Linked DNA regions of Homo sapiens: regions 1 and 2 are each linked to region 3. Evidence: fine-mapped QTL for protein levels in blood plasma. A gene starts in region 3. Each other region holds a variant in brackets. All regions are shown on one strand. Distances are from middle to middle.

Region 1 (8,189 bases), 19 kb after region 3:
CCCCAATAAACTCTTCTTCATCTCTGTGAATGACGCCAATTATTACTCCAATGCAACCACCAATGAGCAGGGTCTTGCACAGTTTTCAATCAATACTACCAGTATCTCGGTTAATAAACTTTTTGTCCGGGTAAGTATAGAAAGACAAATCTCTGAGGACAAAGGAAATGTTAGGAACAGTGATATATTCAGAAGAAATGTACAGATTGCATTTAAGAGTAAGAAATAAGAAGATATCTAACTTTGAGTTTACAAATTTGAGGATAATAGAATTTCATGAAAAACAATAAAGGCATTAGAAAAGGCACTGCAGAAGTGCCTGATAATTTCACTATCATTATCTGTAACATTTTATATAGTATGAAAAAAATCTTATTTGATTTGGGTCGTGAACAATATCAGCTGCTTCAGTAATTCATGTACTTTGTTTTATGTTATTTTTTCCAGGTCACTTAGAAATTTTGTAAAGTGATCACACACACACACACTTAATATACACTGTCTAATGACGATGATCAAAAGATTTCCCTAGCTAAAAAGTTTTCATGCTTGTTATCTCAAAGAAGTGATAAAAGACTATAATTTATGGATTTCAGTGTCAATAAATAACATATACATTATTTCTGTTTCTCAGTTTCACGTGTTAACTCAGTTTAAAAACATGTAATGATGTTTAATGTTTTCTATGTGATAGACACTCACTCTCCCTAGGATTTAAAAGGTGACTAAATAGTGTCCCTACACTTTAAAATTTCCTATTTTCATGGAGTTAAAAGATCTGTAAATTATTAGTATGATGTGTTTATGCGCAAAAGGTTTTTTTAAATAGGAACTTTATTATGAGACCAAATAGAAGAGTCCACAAAATATGCCTAATAAATTTAGAAAAAAATAAGTGCACTTTGAAGAAAAGCTAAGGAGCAGTTACCACAAGGGAAATAGAATTGTGCGCAAAACATTATCTGCAAGGCTTAAAGTTTCAGAAATCACATAGGTCTTAAAGGTTGGAAGTCACAATAATGATAAGAGGCATAAATGCTAATTTACTAAGGATTACTAAAAACAATTTTGAAGCTCATAAGGTAATAGAATGTTTTATTAATACAAACCCTAATTTTAATTAAGCCAATTCATGAGGTAATTCTAATATCTGAAAAATCCCTTTTCCACTTGTTTGAGTTATTTATCATTCTCATTTTTCCTCTAGTTCTGAGGGGCAGGAGGAAAATGTCAAAGTAGTAATGAGTTAGCAGAATCAGGGCAAAAGAGATAAATTTGTGGATGATTTCCTTTTAATATTTGAATGTTGGGAGACTGAAAATTCATTTATTTGGCTGTCGACCAGTATGAGGGAGAGGCATAGTGTATTTTAGAGTGGAAGACACCGTTGTAACTATTCATTTTGGTGAGAAGCTAAGGTGAAGAATTTCAAGACAGTATTCTTTCTTTGCTTTTCTGTTTACTCAGGTTTTCACTGTGCATCCCAACTTGTGTTTTCACTATTCATGGGTAGCAGAAGACCACCAGGGTGCTCAGCACACTGCAAATCGTGTTTTCTCCTTAAGTGGAAGTTACATTCACCTGGAGCCTGTGGCTGGTACCCTGCCCTGTGGCCACACGGAGACTATCACGGCACACTATACACTGAATAGACAGGCCATGGGAGAGTTATCGGAGCTCAGTTTCCATTACCTGGTAAGAATGAGGCCATGGAATACAATTGCAGCTTATCAGTAGGACAAAAGTGGTCAATAGGCTCAGGAATGTCAAAATAAACTACTTGCACACAGCCACCTTGTGTTCTTGTTGTGCGTCCTTCATTCCATGAGTTTTCTTGAGGTTGATTCTCTCCAGCACAGACTTGACAACTGAAAGTGGGTCATGTGGGGAATAGAAGGCTGAGAACTGTGTCCAGCTCAAGAAATTTCCTTCACTGTTTTTTCATTTCAGATCATGGCTAAGGGAGTCATCGTCAGATCTGGAACCCACACTCTGCCTGTGGAGTCAGGAGACAGTGAGTATCCTCAGATTCATCTCTCCTTGCTCCCCTAACACATCCTTACCCTTCCCTCGGTGACAGTTCATAAATGGGAAATCGTTTCCATCATCCCTTCACAATAAGGAGGACACGCAGGAAAATACTCGTCTTATGACTCTTTGGCATTTTAAAATTCAACAGTCAACAGATAAATGTGATTGTCTACTCTGTATCAGTCACTCTGCTAAGGTACACTAGTTTTTCACTTTAGTTTGTTTCTTCTAACAGCAAAACAAAGCTCTTTTCAAAATCTAAGCTGCCTTCTATTTATCTCCACCCCCAATAAAGTGTACATTGATTAAATTAACATTGCAGAGAAGAAAAAAGTAATTATCATGGGAAATGGGAAGGAAGAAAGGTGATAGATTTTTTTTTCTTGTGCCAGGCCATGAGTACTTTATATACGAAATTGGATTCACTTCAAGAATAAATTGAGGCCTGGGGAACCAAGATCGTTTTCTATTCTAAGTCAAATAATCTAGAGGTTAAACCACTGAAAAGAGAACCCGTGAACATTTTTGTAATTAACCTAAACTAAGGGAAACATTTTACCAATTTCCACCACACCCCTAAGCTAAACTTAATAACCATTAGGATTTGCTCCATGCCTAATATTTTCTATTTATGTAGTTTCTCTTCCTGCTAAGCTGGAAAAATTAAATATTAATTTTTAATTTTTATTTTTCAGTTTTGAAAATTGAAACAATTTTGAGAAAGTTAAAATTTATGCATTATTAATCAGTACTCTAATAATTAATAATTATTTTAATTAAACATTAAAAACTGCTGCCAGTTTTGAATATCAGTTTTTTCCCAATACTAGTGTAGAGGTAGTTAGATATGGAGAATGGACCCCACTGTGTACATTGTTCTTCAATTTTTGTTGAATAATTTTCTTCTAATACTGGTCTATGTATCACATTCACAGAAATAATCAAAGGTTTTAAAACATTTATTTGATTTTTTCTTTTATAATATTCCAATTTGAATTTTATTCATAACAGGAAGAGTCTGTATGAAAATCTCTATATAGTAAAATGAGGACTAGTTATTTAATCATTTACTTTGTGAAGATGCCACAAAATTTTATTGAAAGTAGCTGAGTCAACAATTGGAAAAAATTTCTCTATATAGCTAATTAAATCATAATTGTTTCATCATAAAACAATTTTAACCACA[T/A]ATTTTAATAGTTATTAATTACCGATTTACTCTTCACCAAAGAATTATCAAAAGCACTTACACCTCTATGATAAAAGAACAAATTTTATTCACAATTTGTCTAAATTCAACTTTTTAAAACTTTTCAAATTGTCCAAGTTGAGCTTCCTCATATTGTTCTCTTTTCACACTATTCTTCATACTGTCCAAATTATTATTACCTAAATTATTTGCCTATTTAATTTTCAGAATTGAGATTTTAAATAATGAAATCTTCTCAAATTTTATTATTTATTATTATGTTTAAAACTTTTATTTTAGGTTTGAAGGGTTCATGTTCAGGTTTGTTATGTAGGTAAACTCGTGTCATGGGGTTTGTTGTACAGATTATTTCGTTACCCAGGTTCTAAGCCTACTACCCAATAATTATTTTTTCTGATCCTCTTTCTCCACCTACCCTCCACCCTCCAATAGGCCTCAATGTCTTCTGCTCTCCCTCCTCCCGCCCTCCACCCTCAGATAGGCCCCACTGTGTGTTGTCCTCTTTGTATCCATTATGTTCTCATCATTTAGCTCCCACTTATAACTGAGCACATGGAATATTTGGTTTTCTGTTCCTACATTATTTTGCTAAGAATGATAGCTTCTAGCTCCATGTATGCTCCTGCAAAGGACATGATGGCGTTCTTTTTTATGGCTGCATAGTTCCATGGTGTGTATGTACCACATTTTCTTTATTCAGTCTTCCACTGATGGGCATTTAGGTTGATTCCATGTCTTTGCTACTGTTCATTGCAACAGGGTTGCAATGAACATATGTGTGCATGTGTCTTTATGACAGAACAATTTATATTCCTTTGGATATATACCCAGTACTGGGATTCTTGGGTCAAATGATAGTTCTGTTTTTAGCTCTTTGAGGAATCGCCACACTGCTTTCCATAATGGCTGAACTAATTTACATTCCCACCAAGAGTGTATAAGCATTCCCTTTTCTCCACAACCTTGCCAACATCTGTTATTTTTTGACTCTTAATAATAGCCATTCTGACTGATGTGAGATGATAATCTCATTGTGGTTTTGAGTTGCATTTCTCTAATATTCAGTAGTATTGAGCTTTTTTTCATTGGCTTGTTGGCCACATGTATATCTTCTTTTGAAAAGTGTTTATTCCTGTCCTTTGCCCACTTTTTAATGTGGTGGTTTGTTTTTTCCTTGTAAATGTGTTTAAATTCTATACAGATGCTAGATATTAGACCTTTATTGGATGCATAGATTGCAAAAGTTTTCTCTCATTCTCTAAGTTGTCTGTTTACTCTATTGATAGTTTCTTTTGCTGTGCAGAAGCTCTTTAGGTTAATTAGATCCCATTTGTCAATGTTTGCATTTGTTGAGATTGTTTTTAGTGTCTTCTTCATGAAATCTTTGCAGTTCCTGTGTCCAGAATGGTATTGCCTAGGTTGTCTTCCAGAGTTTGTATACTTTTTGGTTTTACATTTAAGTCTTTAACCAATCTTGAGTTGATTTTTGTGCATTGTGTAAGGCGGGGATCCAGTTTCAATCTTCTGCCTATGGCTAGCCAGTTATCTCAGCACCATTTATTGAATAGGGAGTCCTTTCCTTGTGTTTGTTAGCTTTGTTGAAGATCAGATGGTTGTGGGTGTGCAGCATTATTTATGGTCTCTGCATTCTGTCCCATTGATTTGTGTGTCTGTTTTTGTACAAGTACTATGCTGTTTTGGTAACTGTAGCCCTGTAGTATAGTTTGAAGTTGGGTGGTGTGATGCCTCCTCCTTTCTTCTTTTTGCTTAGGATTGCCTTGGCTATTTGGGCTCTTTTTTTAGTTCCATATACATTTTTAAATAGTTTTATCTAGGTCTGTGAAGGATGTCGTTGGTAGTTTTATAGGAAAAACATTAAATCTATAAATTGCTTTGGGCAATATGACCATTTTCATGATATTGATTCTTCCTATCTATGAGCATGGAATATTTTTTCCATTTGCATCATCTCTGATTTCTTTGAGCAGTGTTTTGTAATTCTCATTGTAGAGATCTTTGGGCAATATGACCATTTTCATACTGATTCTTCCTATCTATGAGCATGGAATATTTTTCCATTTGTTTGTGTCATCTCTGATTTCTTTGAGCGGTGTTTTATAATTCTCATTGTATAGATCTTTCACCTCCCTGGTTAGCTATATTTCTAGGTATTTTATTCTTTCTGTGACAATTGTGAATGGGATTGCTTGCATTCCTGATTTGGCTTTTGGCTTGACTGTTGTTGGTGTATAGGAATGCTAGTAATTTTTGTACATTGATTTTGTATCCTGAAATTTTGCTAACATCATTTTTCAGCTTAAGGAGCTTTGGGGCCAACACTATGGGGTTTTCTAGATATAAAATCATGTCGTCTGCAAACAGGGATAGTTTGACTTCCTCTCTTCCTATGCTGATGCCCTTTATTTCTTTGTCTTGCCCGATTGTTCTGGTGAGGACTTCCAATACTGTGTTCAATAGGAGTGGTGAGAGAGGACATCCTTGTCTTGTGCCAGTTTTTAAGGAGAATGCTTCCAGCTTTTGCCCATTCAGTATGATGTTGGCCATGGGTTTGTCATAGATGGCTGTTATTATTTTGAGGTATGTTCTTTCAATATCTAGTTTATTGGGAGTTTTTAACATGAAGAGGTGTTGAATTTTACTAAAATCCTTTTCTACATCTGATAAGATAATCGTATTTTTGTCATTGGTTCTGTTTATATGAATGAATCACATTTATTGATATGCCTATGTTGAACCAACCTTGCATCCCAGGGATGAAGTCTACTTGATCGCGGTAGCTAAGCTTTTTGATGTGCTGCTGGATTCAGTTTACCAGTATTTTATTGAGGATTTTCGCATCAATGTTCATCAGGAATATTGGTTTGCAAATATTTTGTTGAGGATTTTTGCATCAATGTTCATCAAGGACGTTTGGCCAGACTATTTTTTATGTGAGTCCCACTTCTCCTCATGGGGGCAACCCCACAACCTGGGACTGCAGCCACCACCACCCCACCCCCATCAGGGTTTTCAGGCTGGTAGCAACTTTACATTTCCCTGGGACGGAGCTCACAGAGGGTGAGGCTGGCTGCCATTTTTTCCATCTTGAAGCTTCCGTTGCTGTAACTTTCAGGTTCCGAAGAGCAAGTAGTGATTAGGGTGTAGCATGGATCACCTGCACAGCACAGCTGACCCACTAGTTCTTTCAGTTGTGATGTGAGGTTAAGTTGAGATCTTTCTAACTTTTCGATGTGGATGTTTAGTGCTATAAGTTTCCCTCTTAACACCGCCTTAGCTGTGTCCCAGAAATTCTGGTGTGTTGTATCTTTGTTCTTACTGGTTTCAAAGAACTTCCTGATTTCTGCCAAAATTTCATTATTTACCCAAAAGTCATGCAGGAGCAGGTTGTTTAATTTCTATGTAATTGTATGGTTTTGAGTGATTTTCTTCTTATTGAATTCTATTTTAATCACATGGTAGTCCGAGAGTGTGGAGTGTATGATTTCATTTTTCTAAATTTGCTGAGGATAGTTTTATGTCTGATTGTGTGATCGGTTTTAGAGTAGTGCCGTGTGCAGTTGAGAAGAATGTATGTGTTGTTGTTTTGTAGTGGATAGTTTTGTAGATGTCTATCAGATCCATTTGGGTCCTGTGCTGAGTTCAGATCCTAAATTTCTGCCTTGATGATCTGTCTAATACTGTCTGTGGAGTGTTGAAGTTTCTCAATATTATTGTGTGGGAGTCTGAGTCTCTTTGAAGGTCTCTAAGCACTTGTTTTATGAATCTGGGTGCTCCTGTGTTGGGTGCATGTAGATTTTGTTTAGTTAGGTCTTCTCATTGAATTAAACCCTTTACCATTATGCAATTCTCTTGTCTTTTTTTTTTTTTTTTGACCTTTCTTGGTTTAAAGTCTGTTTTGTCTGAAATTAGTATTGCAACCCCTGCTTTTCTCTTTTTCTTTTTTTTTAAATTATACTTTAAGTTCTGGGATACATGGGCAGAACGTGCAGGTTTGTTACATAGGTGTACATGTGCCATGGTGGTTTGCTGCACCCATCAGCCTGTCATCTATATTAGGTATTTCTCCTAATGCTATCCCTCCCCCAGCCCCCCACCCCCGACAGGCCCCAGTGTGTGATGTTCCCCTCCCTGTGTCCATGTGTTCTCATTTTTCAACTTCCACTTATGAGTGAGAACATGTGGTGTTTGGTTTTCTGTTCTTGTGTTAGTTTGCTGAGAATGACAGTTTCCAGCTTCATCCATGTCCCTGGAAAGGACATGAACTCATCCTTTTTTATGGCTGCATAGTATTCCATGGTGTATATGTGCCACATTTTCTTTATCCAGTCTATCATTGATGGGCATGTGGCAACCCCTGCTTTTTTCTATTTTCCATTTGCTTGACAGATTTTTCTCCTTTCCTTTATCTCGAGCCTATCAGTGTCATTGCATGTGAGATGGGTCTCTTAAAGACGGCATACCACTGAGTCTTGCTTCTTCATCTGGCTTGCCACTCTGTGCCTCTTAATTGGGGCATTTAGTCTGTTTACATTAGAGGTTAATATTGAGATGCGTGAATTTGAATCTGCCATCATGTTGTTAGCTGTTTGTCAACTTGTTTGTGTAACTGCTCTATAGTGTCACTGGTCTGTGTACTTCAGTGTGGTTATGTAGTGGCTCGTAATATTCTTTCCTTTTTATATTCAGTGCTTCTTTCTGGAGCTCTTGCAAGTTGGATCTGGTGGTAACAAATTCCCTCAGCATTTCCTTGTCTGAGAAGCATCTTATTTCTCCTTCACTTATGAAGTTTAGTTTGGCTAGATATGAAATTCTTGGTTGGAATTTATTTTCTTTAAGAATGTTGGCCAGGTGCAGTGGCTCATACCTGTAATCCCAGCACTTTGGGGGGTCAAGGTGGTCAGATCATGAAGTCAGGAGATCGAGACCATCC
Region 2 (8,189 bases), 43 kb after region 3:
CTCACTACTTATTAACATGCTGGCTTGTGAGTTTTTGAATGTTAATAAAACTCTGTATCTATTCATAATCTTAGTAATTATGTAGCCTTGCCTCTCCATTTTTCAGCAGACAAAAATGAAGCCAATAAAAAGGTTAAAGTCTCTTGTGAGGATCACACAAAAGCTCAGTATGTGAGTCAGGGCTAGATCTAACCTCTGCCTATTCATCTGGATACTTTTTAGTTATATTTAGGTTTTTTTATTTGCAAACCAAAAAATAATGAATAAAGAATAAAATCTTAATAATCCATAAGTTTAGTAATTTCACTACTCTATATTTACTGTCAAGTGTTTCGCCATAGAATTAATATAAGGATACTGGAATTACATAGAGAAGTCTCTAAGGATAATATGTTTTATATATTCTAATCAAGCTTACAAGTAGATTGAACAATTATTTTTTTCCAGGGGATGGGATTGAAGGTGTTCACTAACTCAAAAATCCGAAAACCAAAGTCGTGTTCAGTCATCCCTTCCGTGTCTGCAGGAGCAGTAGGTCAAGGATACTATGGAGGTAAAACAGCAATTTGCTTTTAATTTTATTTCATGTCCAACAATATTACTATGCCCAAAATGCTAAAATGAGGTAATGTAGCCCTATTTCCACTTTATACACACAAAGAAACCAAGATTCAAATTAATTGTTTCTTGCTGAGGTGACTTAGCTGGTGATAGCTAGAACTGATCAGAGATTTTTTTTTAGATACATCCGATACTTCAGGGCACAAAATCAGATAAAATACAAGATTCTGATGTACTGTAAGAGAGGGAAAATGCTGACAATGGAAAGAAAGAGTAATTCTGATTATGGAAACAGGAAAGACATTCATAGGGATGCTGTATTTTAAAAAACATAAAGAAGGACAAAGGGCTTCACTGGTGACAAGAAACAACGTGAACATCACAGAAATATCTCATAATCCATGGCCAAAACCACTATTCAAATACAGCAGCCTTTTTCAACACCCTTGAACTTATTAAAACATCTGTCCCATCACCAGGTCTACTTACACTTGAACACTACCCAGCCATTTGTCATCCCTCTCTCATGAATCCAACTCCCTTTTTCTCCAAAATATCCCTGACATCCATCTGCTCACAAATATTTATATGCTCGGATTGGAAATCAGATATCCTATATGTGAAGTGGGTGTGTCATATCTCCTCTCTAAGCCTCAAATCCTTCATTAATAAATTGAAGGAATTTGACTAATGGCTCTTCAAGACCTTGCAAAACGCCCAATAAGATAACTAAATATAATGCACCAACACAAATTAAGAACTTTGATTGTTTAAATAGCATTTTCTATGTTCCTTGGCATTTAAGATTAATATCCATCTTTAAATGAGCTTTATTATTAAGAAAATGACACCTTTTAAAGGGCCATGGACTGTTTAAGTATACCTTCAATGATAGCACAAATTTCAAACAATTTCTCAAAAATGGTAAATATGATTTTGTCTTGTAACTGAGATGTTATATAAATAACGAGAATAAAGAATAAGGGAAAGGAAAATAGCCATGAGATTTACATAGAACAAACTTCAAGTTTAAACCATTGAGGTTTGGGGGGAAGGAAATGTTCTTGAATTTATTAAATTCAAGATGGAAAATTGACGGCATATAATAACACTCAGGAAAAAAAGAGCTTCTAAAATGTGTGATGAATACATAACAGGGATTGAAATTAGTAGCTATAAATGAATCAGGTATATGAGGAAATAAAAGAGCTAAGAAAACTGAAATATCTTGTGAAATTTCTTGATAAGAACTTCAACAACATGAAGCCATTTCCATGACTACAGAGAACAATGAAAAGCAGCAGGGGTGGAGGTGGGGGAGGGCAACGGAAGGAACCCCCACCCCCAGCCAAGGGAAGCGGTGAGTGATTGTGCGACCTCGCCTGGGAAATCACATTTCTCCCAAGGATCTCTGCAACCCATGGATCAGGAGATACCCTTGTGAGCCCATGCCACCAGGGTCTTGGGTCTGATACACAAAGCTTTGATGCAGAGACTATGAAAGGACACGTGGAAAGTCAAGTTGACAGTAAGAGTAGGAAGGATATAGCCATGGTCCACTAAATGGAGTTGAAATAACACATAATGCCATGGTTTGTTAACTGCAATAACTGGAGGAGTTGGAGGGCCCTTGACATATCCAGTAGAAAATGGAAAATAGTTCATTTAGGTGCATCATCCTTTTAGATATTTCAATATTTAAGATAAGAGTGAAGACAGAGAAGACAAAACAGTGAGAAATCAGAGTCAGAGATAGAAATTGTTACCACTTGGAAGGACATGGGGCAAGGTGTATGATATTCACTAAAGAAATTACTACTGATGCTTTCTTCAGTGGAGAAAACTGTTAGGGTGAAATTGCTAGAAATATATTTTTCCTTGTAAGTATTCTTTCACAAGGTATTTCTGAAATATCAGATGGGATACATGGAGGGAGATCTTAAATCAAATTCAATTAGTAAGCATGATTTCAGGCACAACGTGGACAAAATTGCTTTCATGTCTAGCTCTCCACCCTCTCACGTTGGTAAATGATTTCTTTGTCTGAACCACACAGCCATTCCAAATGGAAATATCTGTTTTTGACAACTGAATTGTTTATTTCAGATGTCAAAAAATAAGTGGAATAAAATCTAATGCTCTAATCTTATTTCCCAGAGAACAACAGTTTTGCAAAGTTCCATACAGTGATTTAAAGTAAATTTAATTTATGTAAAAGTAATTTAATGTAAATCATTAAATTCTGTTCACTCCACTGGTAATTTCATTTTTAGTATAGCAACCACTCTCAATGTCTAAAGAGCATTTTACAATTCCTGCTCAGTTTCTCTAAGAATGAAGCAATACTGTCTCAATTTCAAAATTGGTCCTTCGCCACAAAACCCATAAAACTGTCTCCAAGTGATCTCGTTTTTCCAGCTTCCATTCACATCAAATTATGCTATGTCTAGGATACATAGAATTTCCACCTTTGACAAAGACTCCTCTCTTTTCAGGGAATGAGGGATCACAAAGTATTTCCCAAGTTCTACAACTTCTACAAGACTTTTAGGACAGTCTGAGCAGGAAAACTGAAAATTTTGTTCTCTAACGTCTCACATGTGCACCATGAAATTAATGAATGTTTTTCCCTAACTAGACAATTTTCTCTTACTTTAGCAGGTCTAGGAGTAGTAGAGAGACCATATGTTCCTCAATTAGGCACATATAATGTGATACCCTTAAATAATGAACAAAGTTCAGGGCCAGTCCCTGAAACGGTGCGAAGCTATTTTCCTGAGACTTGGATCTGGGAGTTGGTGGCAGTGAAGTAAGTAACTTTACTTTCCTCCATTTGCTGGAGGGGAGGGAATGTGGTTCCTCCAACATTTTCAATTCTAAGACAATCTTCCTGAAAAGTTCTGAATAATTATCTTAACCTCTTCCTCTTTAGGATAGACCTAAGTAAAATGCGCAATTGCATAGGCTCATTAATACAATTGTCTCAGTGCTGAGCAATTCTAAAATAATTATTTCTGATACTGTCAAATAGTAGACATGAGAACTATAAATATTCAGTTCTATATATACTGCTTAATGTCGTTCAGGGAGCCTTCTGTAAATATCAGGGCTGGAGCAGGCACATAAACAAATCAGGCTACATTAATCCAGTGGTCTAATTGTTGGTCATGATTCTTAAAAATGCTTATTTATGGGATTATACAATAGCAAGGGAAGTTAAGGACTAAAATGAATCGCAATTCAAATATTTTTATTCAAAGTACAGACATGTGGGATATGATCATTTGTTGATAAGGGGGAGAGGTACCATTCAGTGGCTTTCATTTTCCCAACTCAGATCCCAGGACATAATCTAGTGTTCACACGAATGCACACTCGCATATACCCTTAAGTGGATTCAGTTCTTGACGTTAGCTTTATGCATATTAATTCTCACTTGAGAAAAGGTGGCTTACATTCATTATTTCTGTTCTTCACTTGCCCTCCTCCCCAGCTCATCAGGTGTGGCTGAGGTAGGAGTAACAGTCCCTGACACCATCACCGAGTGGAAGGCAGGGGCCTTCTGCCTGTCCGAAGATGCTGGACTTGGTATCTCTTCCACTGCCTCTCTCCGAGCCTTCCAGCCCTTCTTTGTGGAGCTCACAATGCCTTACTCTGTGATTCGTGGAGAGG[T/C]CTTCACACTCAAGGCCACGGTCCTAAACTACCTTCCCAAATGCATCCGGGTAAGGAAAATGAGGGTGAACAGGAAAGGTGGGTAGAACAAAAGATTCCTTTGATCAGTCAGCTACTGATTCTGTTCCTGAGACTAAGGATAATTCAAGGGATTGTGTGTTAGCACTGTGAATAATTAGTGCTATGCAAAGCAGGACATGATCAGAAAGATAATACAATGATATATGTGCTATGGGTGCTTAAATCACGGCTCTCTAAGCCACACCTTGCTTTTCTATTTCTTAGCGCTTGCAGAATTCTTTGCTGCAAGTTAGGTTATATGCCAGGAACATTCTTGAAGCTGACACACAACTCAGCTTTCTCAGTTCCACGAGAGTCATTCTCCAACCCGTCATCTTGAAATCTCCAAAATATATAATTTTAATTTATCTTATAGCACTTATCTCTTTGTAAATTATGTAATAGTGGTTGTATATAGATCATCTTTCTTGTGACACAATATCCTCAAGATCGGGAGCCTCTCATCTACCATTCCCAGTGTTTTATGTCTTGTATGGATTAGACATGTAATATATGTTGTAAGAAATAGGAGAAGAAAGGAAGGAAGAAACTATGAAAATCTACATAGCAGCAGATAGTATTCCCTAGGGCAATATACAATCACTGCTTTTCCCTTTCCTCTGCCACTGCCAAGCCTGCACGTCCACAAGCTACCCTAAGGCAAATGCCAAATCCTCCTAATACACAACCAATCTTGATTTGTATCATTGCCATTGCCATGCTTCTTAAAGCATGGATGAATCTATGTGACATACATTTTTCTTACAAATCCCAATTTACTGCAGCATCTCACACTTGGCCCCAATTCTATGTGTTCGTGTCGTTCCATATTCTGATCATTTCTGTCTCTGCCTCACATGGGGTGATAGGTCAGTGTGCAGCTGAAAGCCTCTCCAGCCTTCCTAGCTTCCCAAAATACAAAGGGAGAAGAATCCTATTGTATCTGTGGAAATGAGAGACAAACCTTGTCTTGGACAGTGACTCCTAAAACTCTGGGTGAGTGACAGTACCCAAAAGGGCCTATCAATCAACAAGGACGGTGGCTGTCTGAGTACTTTTTTCATCATATTCTCTCTTTTATTTGCCATAGATATAATTCTATAAAGTTAGTTTTTTTTCCTATTTCTATCCACTATGACCTCCTCCCACTGTTCTCACCCAAGCTAGTCCCCAGAATCACTATCTTGGACATTGGCTACTTAGTATACATTAACCTTGTGGGTTTCTTTTTTTTTAGCCTTATTTTCTATTCTGGACAACTATAAGTTTAAGGTGCAGCCCTTAAAGGTGATTGGACTATCAAAGTGGATACTCATGTTTTCAATATTCCTTGTTTTAGGGAATGTGAACTTCTCAGTGAGTGCAGAGGCAATGCAGTCCTTAGAACTCTGTGGAAATGAGGTTGTTGAGGTCCCTGAGATTAAAAGAAAAGACACAGTCATCAAAACCCTGTTGGTGGAGGTAACATATTTTTGGGAGTCCCTAACAACTGTAAGAATGCAACACCGGGCGGTCACTCTTGAGACAACAAAGAACCATTAATATCATGCTCACACAATACATCCTGTAAGACTAATGGAATTTCCTGCCCTAAAAGCATTGCAGCAGACAACATTGCCAGCTATTGTAAATTTTTTTTCACAAATTATTTGAGTGCAATTTCCTTTTTTTTTTTTGAGACGGAGTTTTGCTCTGTTGCACAGGCTGAAGTGCAGTGTTGCGATCTCGGCTCACTGAAAGCTCTGCCTCCCGGGTTCATGCCATTCTCCTGCCTCAGCCTCCCGAGTAGCTGGGACTACAGGCGCCTGGCTAATTTTTTTTTTTTTTTTTTTGTATTTTTAGTAGAGACGGGGTTTCACCATGTTAGCCAGGATGGTCTCAATCTCCTGACCTCGTGATCCTCCCTTCTCGGCCTCCCAAAGTGCTGGGATTACATTGAGCGCAATTTCTTGATCTCCACCTCTCTCCTAAGATTCACATATCTCTCATACCCATTAGCTTTGATTTACTGCCCTTATTATCTCTTCCCATTTTCTCTCTACCACCCTCCCTGGTTCTTCAATGTTTTATGGATTTGTAATAATTCAATAACAAGTAGGATGTTATGTTCTCACTTATAAGTGGGAGCTGAATGATGCAAACACATAGACACATGGAGGCGAGCAACATATATGGGGCCTGTCTGAGAGTGGGAGTGACAGAAGGGAGAGCATCAGGAAGAATAGCTAGTGGATGCTGGGCTTAATCCCTAGGTGATGGGATGATCTGTGCAGCAAACCACCATGGCACACATTTACCTATGTAACAAACCTGCACCTCCTGCACATGTCCCCTTGAACTTAAAACAAAAGTTGGGAAAAAAAGAGTAGGATGGTAAACATCATTCGTGTAAACCCTACCCATCAAAGAAAGGAATCCATGTGGTTCTCTTGTCACCAGGATGTTTCTATCTTTTCTCCTTTTCTTTCCTTTCATCCAAGGCTGAAGGTATTGAGCAAGAAAAGACTTTCAGTTCTATGACCTGTGCCTCAGGTAAGAGTCCATCTTCATAATCATAGTGAGATCAAAACCACAAAGGGGTATAAACCTCAAGTTACAATGCACATTCATTTTATCTCCCAGTTTTCAGAGTGTTCCATGAAAGTCAGCATAATACTAAATATTTCTTTATGTATGTTTTACAGATGAAGACATTGAGCCCAAGAGAGCAAGTTAATGTGACTCAGGTGGTACAGACAGGACTAATACCTGGGCTTTCTTGGTTCATACGTAGCCCTTTTACCTGGATAGCCCAGTGGCTGCTCACTGACAAGCCCAGCTGCAGAAGCTTAGAGTGTCCCAGGATGAGGTAGAAAGAGAGCAGGGTTAGCCGGGTGTGGTGGCTCACATTTGTAATCCCAGCATTTTGGGAGGCTGAGGCGGGAGGATGACTTGAGGTCAGGGGTTTGAGAACAGCCTGGCCAACATGGTGAAACCCTGTCTCTACGAAAAAAACAAAAATTAGCCAGGCCTGGTGGCGGGCGCCTGTAGTCCCAGCTACATGGGGGGCTGGGGCACGAGAATCGCTTGAGCCGGGCAGGGGGAGGTTGCAGTGAGCCGAAATCACACCACTGCGCTCCAACCTGGGCAACAGAGTGAGACTCTTAAAAAAACAAACAAGCAAACAACAACAACAACAAAAACTAAAGACAGCAGGGTCATGATAAGTTTGAATCCCAAGAGATAGTCTCTAAAACAGCTGCTGACAAAACATATAGCATTTCCTACCCATCTCACTAAAAATGTGTGTTTTCCGTGTAGAAAATAATTTACATTTAAGTTCATCATATCATTAAGAAGTAGTTGTAGCTTTTATACAGAACCGCCACATTATTAGTTCTATGTCCACAGTGTATACAGCACTGTATTTGTCATTTGAGAAGGACTAATTTAAGGTATATTCATGTTATCTATTTATAAACATGGGAATCCATTCAAATATAGTGTAAGGGAGGCAGTAAAATAACTTGTATTATCATGGTTATAAGTCTTAATATTGCTACAAAAGTGGAGAGCGATAGTTCCCCCACTAAGTCTTAGGCTTCTTTTAGAAAGCTACTGAGCACAGCCATGCAAAAATATAGTTAAATGAGAAGAGGAAGGACTCTGGAAGTCACACAGTGCCAAAAGCAATTAGACTATCAAAGGTAGTCTCATCATTAAGTCAAATTCTTATTCCTTGCACCCAGAGTTCCACAAGGAGATATAATAATATTACTGCTAACTCTAATAATAAAATAACTGCAATAATAACAATTGCTCACATTCGTTGAAATTGAATATGTTGCAGATACTGTTCTGAATGTTTTACATGTGTTTTTTCCTCAAATCATCACAATTTACCCAAGGTCACAAAG
Region 3 (8,189 bases):
TGTAATGGGAATTTGTGTCCATTTAAAAATTGTAAAAAATAGCCAACTATGGAAAAAATTTACTGGTTTTTTTTTTCAGATTCAATGTTATAAATGAAGGAAATAATTTCCTTTCCTGCAAACTTTATTGCACATTCATTCAGATTTTCTCTTTCACTGTCCCATTTCACATTCTGGAAAAATCAGATATTTTAAGACAAAACTACTCTTTTCCTCATTTGGAAAACATTTGTCCTATTATCTTGCATAGACAGTTATGTTTTTTGTCACTACTGTTTCTACCATGGCCTCAACTATACATATTAGTTATAACATTTAATGAAAGAAAATAACTAACATAAAAAAACTAGAAAAGATGATTGGCTACTTTCTTTCTTATACAGTGAATCCTAAAATGGCCTTGAAATCTGGTACCAGCTCCTCTATGATGCAGTCTAAGAGCAGTCTTGCCCTCACAGGGACCTAATGGGAGAAATGCTCACAAGTGCCCTGGTAGGCTGAACTTGGTCCCACTGTGGATCTTAAAACAGCACTGTATACTGGCTCCAGGCCCTCTCATCTGTGATTTGAGAGCAGGCCTGCCCACTCAGGGACCCAGTGGGACACATGCCCATTCATGAACCCAGAGGCAGGCCTGAAGACCTGGGTCTCAGCTGTAGGCCCTGAGGCAGCCCTGTTACTTGGTTCTCTTTTCTCTCAGCTGCAATCTGGACCAGCACTGTCTGCCTAGGAACCTACCCAGTGACCCAGTAGGAGCCCTCCTAAGGACCCAGAGGAAGCCACATTCATCCACATATCTCGTAACTAGCCTACAATCTGTGGACTCTAAAGTAGACCCTCATCCCAGTGCCAGACCTACTGACCAAGGTCTAGGAGGCAGTCCAATTTACCCAGGGAACAGACAGAATCTAAGCCTACTAGAGCCCCAGTTAACAGGCCTGCCAACCACAGACCTCACTGTTGACCCAGCAAAACCATGTGACCTGGCTCTACCTCCAGTTGACCACAATTCTGGAAGCAATCTTGTCAATCCTGGGAACCCAACAGGAGGATCCTGAGGATCTTTACCTGTAAAACCAGTCTATAAAGATGGGAAAAGGTGTTTGCTCCTTCAGATGCATAGAAACCAATGCAAAGTTACACAGATAATGATGAACCAGGCAAACATAATACCACCAAAGGAAACCAATGAAGTTCCAGTAACTAATCTCCACCCCAAATGGAGATCTACAAATTTCCCCCCAAAATTCAAAATAATCATCTTAAAGATGCTCAGTAAGATGCAAGAAAACACAGATAGACAACTAAATAAAATTAGAAAAACAATGTATGAACAAAATGAGAAGTTTAATAAAGAAATAGAAACCATTAAGAAAAAACACACAAAAATTATATAAGAACAGAACTGAATATTTTAATGGAGAGCTTCAACAGCAAACACAGTCACACAAAAGAAAGAATTAGTAACTTGAAGACAGGTCATGTAAATAGTTAATTAAAGGTGAAAAAAGAAAAAAAATTAAAGAAGAGTGAAGAAAGTATAAGGGACCTATGGAATACCATCAAGCATGCAAATACACATATTATGGGAGTCCTAGAAGGAGAAAAGAGGGAAATGAGCAGAAAGCTTATTTAAAGGAATACTGGAAGAAAAATGTAAAAGCTAGAGTATTGGTGGCAATATGGGGATACGAAAATCCTCATGCACTACTGGTAGAATTGTGGTGTGATGCAACCATTCTGGAGAGTTATTTGTCACTATTTAGTCACTTAAGTACATGCCTCTCATACAACAATCTCACTCCTGTGTATGCGTCTTGCAAGAGGATTTACCTGTCTCAAAGGGTATATGTAAAAAGATATTTATCAAAGCATTATTTCCTCATGGCAGGACAATAGAGACAATCCTGTTTTTATCATTAGGAGAGTGGAAACATTAAACCTCTTGGATGATCACCAAAGAGGGCTATACTGTAATAAAATGCAATTAATAAAATACATACATATAAACATATAAACATGGGAGGATGTTTTAAAACTAGCAATAACTAAAAAGAATAAGAAACAGGCAAGGTCTTTTTCCAATACTCTTTATATAAAATAAAAATACACACTTAAGACTTTCCTTTCCAGTAATGGTATACAAGGTAATTGAGACCAAACTTCCCACTTAAATTAGGAATGGTTGGTTATATATATATTCACTGGAGGTATTGAAAAGCAAAGACTGTGAAGAATTATGAATCCAAAGTTCAGAAGCAACATAGCAACCCAAAGGGGCAATTCTGTGTTTAAGGGCACTTTCCCCTTAGGGTATTTAACAGCTCCAGAATATTTGGCTGAGAGATTTAGAAGCACATTTTAAAGCCTTTAGTAAATAAAATTGCAGCGTCTAGAGTCCAAGGCTCATGAAACTGGGGCAAGGAGATGTTCCTGATAGACCCTTTACATATTGTGTTGAGATATCAAACTGATGGTAGAATTCAAATGGTCCATAAACATATGAAAAGATGTGTAAAGTCATTAATAATGAAAATTAAGGCAAGATACTGCTTCACTCATCAGATTGATAAAAAGTAAAATGCCTAGCAGAGTAAAACGATGGTAAATATATAATAAACTGAAAATATCCACTGTTGCAGATGGGTATTCAAATCCATGTAATACTCTGAAGAGCAATTTACCAATCTGATAGATTTCAAGATGTACATACATATATAGCCTATAACCCAATCTCTGCTATATACCCTAGAGAAAGTCTTGCAAATATGCTTAAGTAGACATACCGTATTTGTAGCAGTATTATTTGTAATGTTGAAAACTATGAAGAATCCAAAATTCAGCACTAGGGGAATAGAGTAACAGGTTCGGCCACATTCATACAATAGAATGTCGTATAGATGGTCATTAAAATTAATAAATTTTATCCTCATTATCAATGCTAATAAGTCTTAAAACCATAATAGTGATGACATATTTTACAATATGTGCATACCACTTATACATATAAAATACAAAACACAAAATTATGCTATATATTATTTACATAAATATGGATTAAAAACATAAACACATCTTGAAGAATACATATCAACTTCCTAATCCCACAACATTGGAAGGGAAATGAGATTGGAGAGAATTACAAAGGAAACTCCAACCATATTTGTCTTGATTTATTTCTTTTTTTGGGTTGGTGGATCTGGTAAAAACTGGAAAAGCTTCTAGACAAATTTTAAAAGAGCACTACCATTGCCATCTTTCATTTCTTAAGAAGAAATGACCTTAAACAAACTTGGCAAGTGTTTAATTTTATTAAAGTTGGGTGCATGTAAGGTACGAGTGTCTTTTATCTTGCTCTCTATATTTGTGAGTATATATATATATAACATTTCATAATTTAAAAGAAATTATTTCATTCTATGATAATGTGACAAAAGAAACAAAGATGTGAAATAAAAACTAATAGGAAGGAATCCACTTTCAGCAGTGTGGCCAGGAATTTGCTCTCCAAAGAAGGGATGATTAGGCTGAAATATGGAGAAAGAGAAAGAAAGTTGATTTAAAAAGTTTCAAGCAATACAGTATGTAAACAGACACCAATGTCTGCAGTCTAAGGATGGCATTAAATCTGCTGGTGGTTTATATGTGATCATCATTGTACTACAAGTTCTATGAGAGCATGGATACTGAATATCCTGTTCAATATTGTATTTTCATCACCAGAATAGCACTTAGCACACAGTATGGCTCAAAAAAAAAATCTCAGATAAAGTCAATGACATGGTTTAAGGGACTCAAACGTTAGAGTGCTCAGACAGTAACAAGGACAGATAGGATCAACTAAGAATCTGATCAGGTCAATGCTGTGAAATAGACAAGTGTGATCTTTGATAACTCCTTTCTAAAATCTCTTTGATCTTTTATCTCTTTTATCTTTCATTGATCCTCTACTCTTGAAATCCTTATTTTATATCACTTTCTTCCAGGACCATGTACTCAATCAACTGCTAAAAAAGAAAACCCAAAAACCCTAAAGTCTATAGTTATAACTCACTCAGTCCCAGAAATGAATCTGCAATGCATGAGCTACTATCATGGTAACATGTCCCTGACATTCTTTGTCAGCATCCTTTGTCACCTGCTTGTAAGGATTTTGAAAGAGATGGAGAAAGGTAGGTTGAAGGTTCCTTATCAGGAGGTTTGCTGTCAAAGCTCATTCTAAATGGAATACAAATTTTATCTTCCAGACATGCCTCAGTACCTATCAGAATTTAGCCTTGAGAAAAATGAGGCAACCACTGAGAGTAATGACCCTTTTAGGGAATCTGTGCTCAATTCTGAACTCTATTCAGAGGCCTTGGGGTGGGGCTTGTTTGTACATAGTGGCCACATAAAGCCTGGTAAACTCAGCTGGTCTCCAGGGCGAGGCTGAGGGCAGAGAGTTGGACACAACCCTGAGATTTATCCCTCACAATGCGGAAAGACAGACTTCTTCATTTATGTCTTGTGCTACTTCTTATCCTGCTTTCTGCCAGTGACTCAAACTCTACAGAACCGTAAGTCTCACTCAAGACCCCTTCCTCCAGAGTGCGTTTCAGTCTCTCCCTTGTGTCTTCGCTTTGCCTTCCTTTGTAAATGCCACCTTTCCACTCATTACAATACCTTCCAAATATAAGAAATTATTCCAGTTAATCCCTTGTTTGTCTTTCATTTATCCTCTATTCTTGAAATCATTTTTTCTACACTGGGCCAATCAGAGTCATAAATACGATTAGTCACTAGGAAGCATGATTAAATAAAACACTAGATCCCAACTTCACAGAACAGTTCTTTTGGATGGAAGGCACTGAATATAGAGATATTCGAAATATATAGTGAAGTGCAACTTAACATGTATTGTAGGCCATATATATATATACAGAAAGTATAGCTCCTTTATTTTTCAATCATGTATCAAGTCTTCACCAACAGCCCCCAGTGGGGGACCAAAGCAGGGAAAATAATTTTAACCCTATCCAGTTGTAAGTTGGTACAACTCAATAATTGTAAGACTTCTTTTCCACCTCTCCCCAGTTCCTCTCCTCTATAGTGTCTAGAGAACTGTGGTCTCCATTAACTCCTAATAGAGAAAACTGTCAGAGTCCTTGGTCTCAAAGTTCTCCGTCCTTCTTGGCTACTGTCAGTCTGACTTCTCCTTACTTGCTGGCATGCACTGTTGAAGTTTAGCCATCTGGTTTCTCTTGTGTGTTCAGGACCCAACAGTCCTCTCTAACTGACTGTCTCACTTCAGCTGTTTCATATCCCATAGAACTCCTACCTTTGCATCCTGCCTCAAATACTATGGCTATTGTTTCAACACAGCCTGTGATGCAGGGTCACCTTGCCCCTTTGCAGTCCAGGCCATTTAAGGTCCCTGGCCTTAACCCAGCTGCCTTTACATTTCTTCCAGAGAATGGTGAGAACTCTTGGGTCCAATAATAGCACATAGGCACTGAGGTGTCCTGGAGAGGTTAAACTTCTACCTCTCTCTTGCATACCCACACTGCACTTCTAGATGCCTATCGTGTCTCCTGTATTCCAGACTGATACAGGGAAGTCTTCAGAGTCCCAAATCGGGAAAGGGATAAGGGGTCCCTCTGCTCTGTGTGTTACCCTTATCCATCTAACACAAATAGCCTTCTTCAGGCCAAAGCGCAGAAAGCAGAAATAAGGAGTTCAATCCAGTAAGTCTCCTGCTTTCCTCAGGCTTTTTCCTTGCACAATTTCCTGGCAACCGGTAGGGGTACATTTCTCCCCCACTATCCCTCTACCTCATCTACAGCAGTGGGCTCTACTACTTCCAGCTGCTCTCCATCCAGAAAGCATATGGGAATATGTGGAGGCTATTTTGCTTTCTGAGAGCAGACTGAATGGATAAAGCGAGTAGCGTGTATTGGGTCAGAAACATTAAGCAATTTGTGGTTCTGGATGCATTCCTACACTACATTGGACCATGCTGCCATTGAAACCATCCTTTTACGTTGTGTCTGCCACTGAACAAAGAACAACAAGCCTCATGCCCTAGTTGTCACAAGCAGAAGGGGTGTTTTCTCCCTTTATAAGGAGAAAACTTAACTTCATCCCTCCAGAATTAACCCTTGATGTGATAAATGTGAGAGACTACAAAAGAGAACCAATAGCCATTCTCCCCTGCCTTGGGGCAGTAAGCTTCAGAAAGATGAAGGTTTCAGGGGAATAAAATGAAAAAGAGAAAATTAAAAGTTATCACTTTAATATTTGCTACATTTAGTCCCTGCTAAAGAGGCAAATATTTAAAATGCAAACATTCATGATTGAGTAAACATATATTAAAACATTTTAGCAGCTCACTACCAATGACATCTTGGGCAAGTTTGTCAACCTGGATTTGTTCTGATTTCAATATCTGTTAAAAAAATATTAACTGAACTCATATAAAATAGTTCTTTAGAATATCAAATATATGTGGAATTAATTTTTAATCGTGATATCTTTTAGGCTTATAATTTATAAGAATAAAAATAGTAAATAAATTATAAATATATATATACCTTCTTATTAAGATCAAAGAACTAAAGGAAAAATTTTTTGATGGGGATGTAAAAAATGATACATTTTTATTATTTATTATGCTGTTAAAAGAGCAGTGATCAGGAGATCAGAAGCATCCAGATACCAGAAAAAGATTAAGACATAAGAGACTAGCTGAATGACTATCAGTGAGTTACTGAACTGCCCTCAGCTTCTCTGCTAGAGAACAAAACCTTACTACTCATACAGTAAAATCATCTGAAACTTGGATGATTTCAGAGTGGCCCTGGAGATTCATGGCATATAGTTTTGCCCAGGAACACTTTAAAACACATGTAGCAAGACTGGTGTGCTGGAGCAGACTACATGGAGGATGAGGGGACCAAATTTGAGTTCCACATTCCACAACTCAATTATCCTTGGATTCTCTCCTCCTAGTCTCACACCTATTAATTTTGTAAAGCAACAATATTGGGTTTCTTGTGTCAAATTGCCTGTCCAGAAAACAATTTAAAAAGTAAGAGTTTATGTTGGCAATGGAAAGTAAGGGTAGTAAAATAATATAAGAAAATAATAGTTTTTACTTGCAAATTTACTCTATAAATGGCCTAACCCTGCAGATATTGAATCATGAATCACTGAATCATTAAAGCTTTGAAGAGTTACATTTTAGTCACAATTTACTGATTTTACTGATTTGGCATGGGGGCAGGGATTTTATCTATCTGTTATGGATTCAAGTTTTGGGGACTGATGAGGATCTCATGTTTTAGCTTCCATGAACATGGAGAGTATCATGCATGTACCTTACAGCATTGCTGGGAAGATTAAATGGCTTAATACAGAGACAGCTTAACAATTCTTGTCATGTGGCAGATGCTCAAAAACAGCAACAACAAAAACACATTCTCTTTCAGCCCATGGGATTTCAGAGTGTGGAGAGATTATATTGAATTGGAGGCTTCTGGAAAGTGACAGGAAAATATGGAGTGGGGGGCATTAGAGACAAAGGACACTCATCAATAAAGCTAAGGCCAGAATGTGAGGCTTACACAAAAAATTGCCTGTGCCTCTGAAAAACTGAAAACTTTCAACAATTTAAATAAAAAAGAAAAGACTTTTCAAAATAATATGACTTTTAGTACTCATATAAACTTTGTTTTGTTTTTTTTTGAAACAGGGTCTCACTCTGTCACTCTGAAAGCACTGGTGCAATCATAGCTCACTGTAGCCTCAACCTCGTGGGCTTAAGTGATCCTTCTTGCCTCAGCCTCCTGAGTAACTGCTACTACAGCCATGTGCCACCTGGCTAAATTTTTTATTTTAATTTTTGTAGAGATGGGGGACCTCACAATGTTGTGCAGGCTGTTCTCAAACTCCTGGCCTCAAGTGACTCTCCTGCCTCAGCCTCCCAAAGTGCCGGGAACTAGGTATAAGCCACTTCTCCCAGCCTGAACCTGTTTGTTTTTTTTTATTGAAAAGATAACCTATCCACCCATGTGATTCGAAACAAACATGTTTATAAACATGGACATACTAATATTAAATTATTAATGTTAATTGCCTCAAGAAATTGAGCATAAAGGGAAATGATAATAAAATACAGTGTGTGTTTGTGTAGTGTGTGTGTAGCAGGGAGT

Which allele goes with the higher level. Alleles are on the strand shown, and positions count from the first base shown. The strength of an association depends on the size of the effect and on how common the allele is.
As copies of A replace T in region 1, the plasma level of the protein whose gene starts at base 4,420 in region 3 goes down (weak association).
For the plasma level of the protein whose gene starts at base 4,420 in region 3, T is the high allele of the variant in region 2 and C is the other (moderate association).

What was found. PIP is the posterior inclusion probability: the model's chance that the variant is causal. The UK Biobank Pharma Proteomics Project read protein levels with antibody pairs (Olink). The fine-mapping took linkage between variants from a reference panel, not from the people measured, so its PIPs are less certain.
Region 1: its variant is fine-mapped to the plasma level of the PZP protein (UK Biobank, PIP 0.95).
Region 2: its variant is fine-mapped to the plasma level of the PZP protein (UK Biobank, PIP above 0.99). The variant lies in the coding sequence of PZP. If it changes the protein, the assay may bind it differently, which can mimic a change of level.

What each region holds. Positions count from the first base shown.
Region 1 is chr12:9,186,018-9,194,206 of GRCh38, reverse strand. It overlaps PZP (PZP alpha-2-macroglobulin like), which reads left to right. Exons shown (of 36, transcript NM_002864.3): 11 at 1-130; 12 at 1,468-1,695; 13 at 1,951-2,014. It also overlaps a transcript of KLRG1 not described here. Among named protein-coding and RNA genes, the nearest start is that of PZP, 18 kb to the left of the region's middle. The variant T/A (reference allele first, on the strand shown) is at 3,218.
Region 2 is chr12:9,161,233-9,169,421 of GRCh38, reverse strand. PZP (PZP alpha-2-macroglobulin like) reads left to right here. Exons shown (of 36, transcript NM_002864.3): 17 at 448-553; 18 at 3,220-3,370; 19 at 4,055-4,283; 20 at 5,163-5,289; 21 at 5,633-5,754; 22 at 6,774-6,825. It also overlaps a transcript of KLRG1 not described here. Among named protein-coding and RNA genes, the nearest start is that of PZP, 43 kb to the left of the region's middle. The variant T/C (reference allele first, on the strand shown) is at 4,234.
Region 3 is chr12:9,204,626-9,212,814 of GRCh38, reverse strand. It overlaps PZP (PZP alpha-2-macroglobulin like), which reads left to right and starts at 4,420. Exons shown (of 36, transcript NM_002864.3): 1 at 4,420-4,556. The coding sequence starts at 4,474. It also overlaps a transcript of KLRG1 not described here.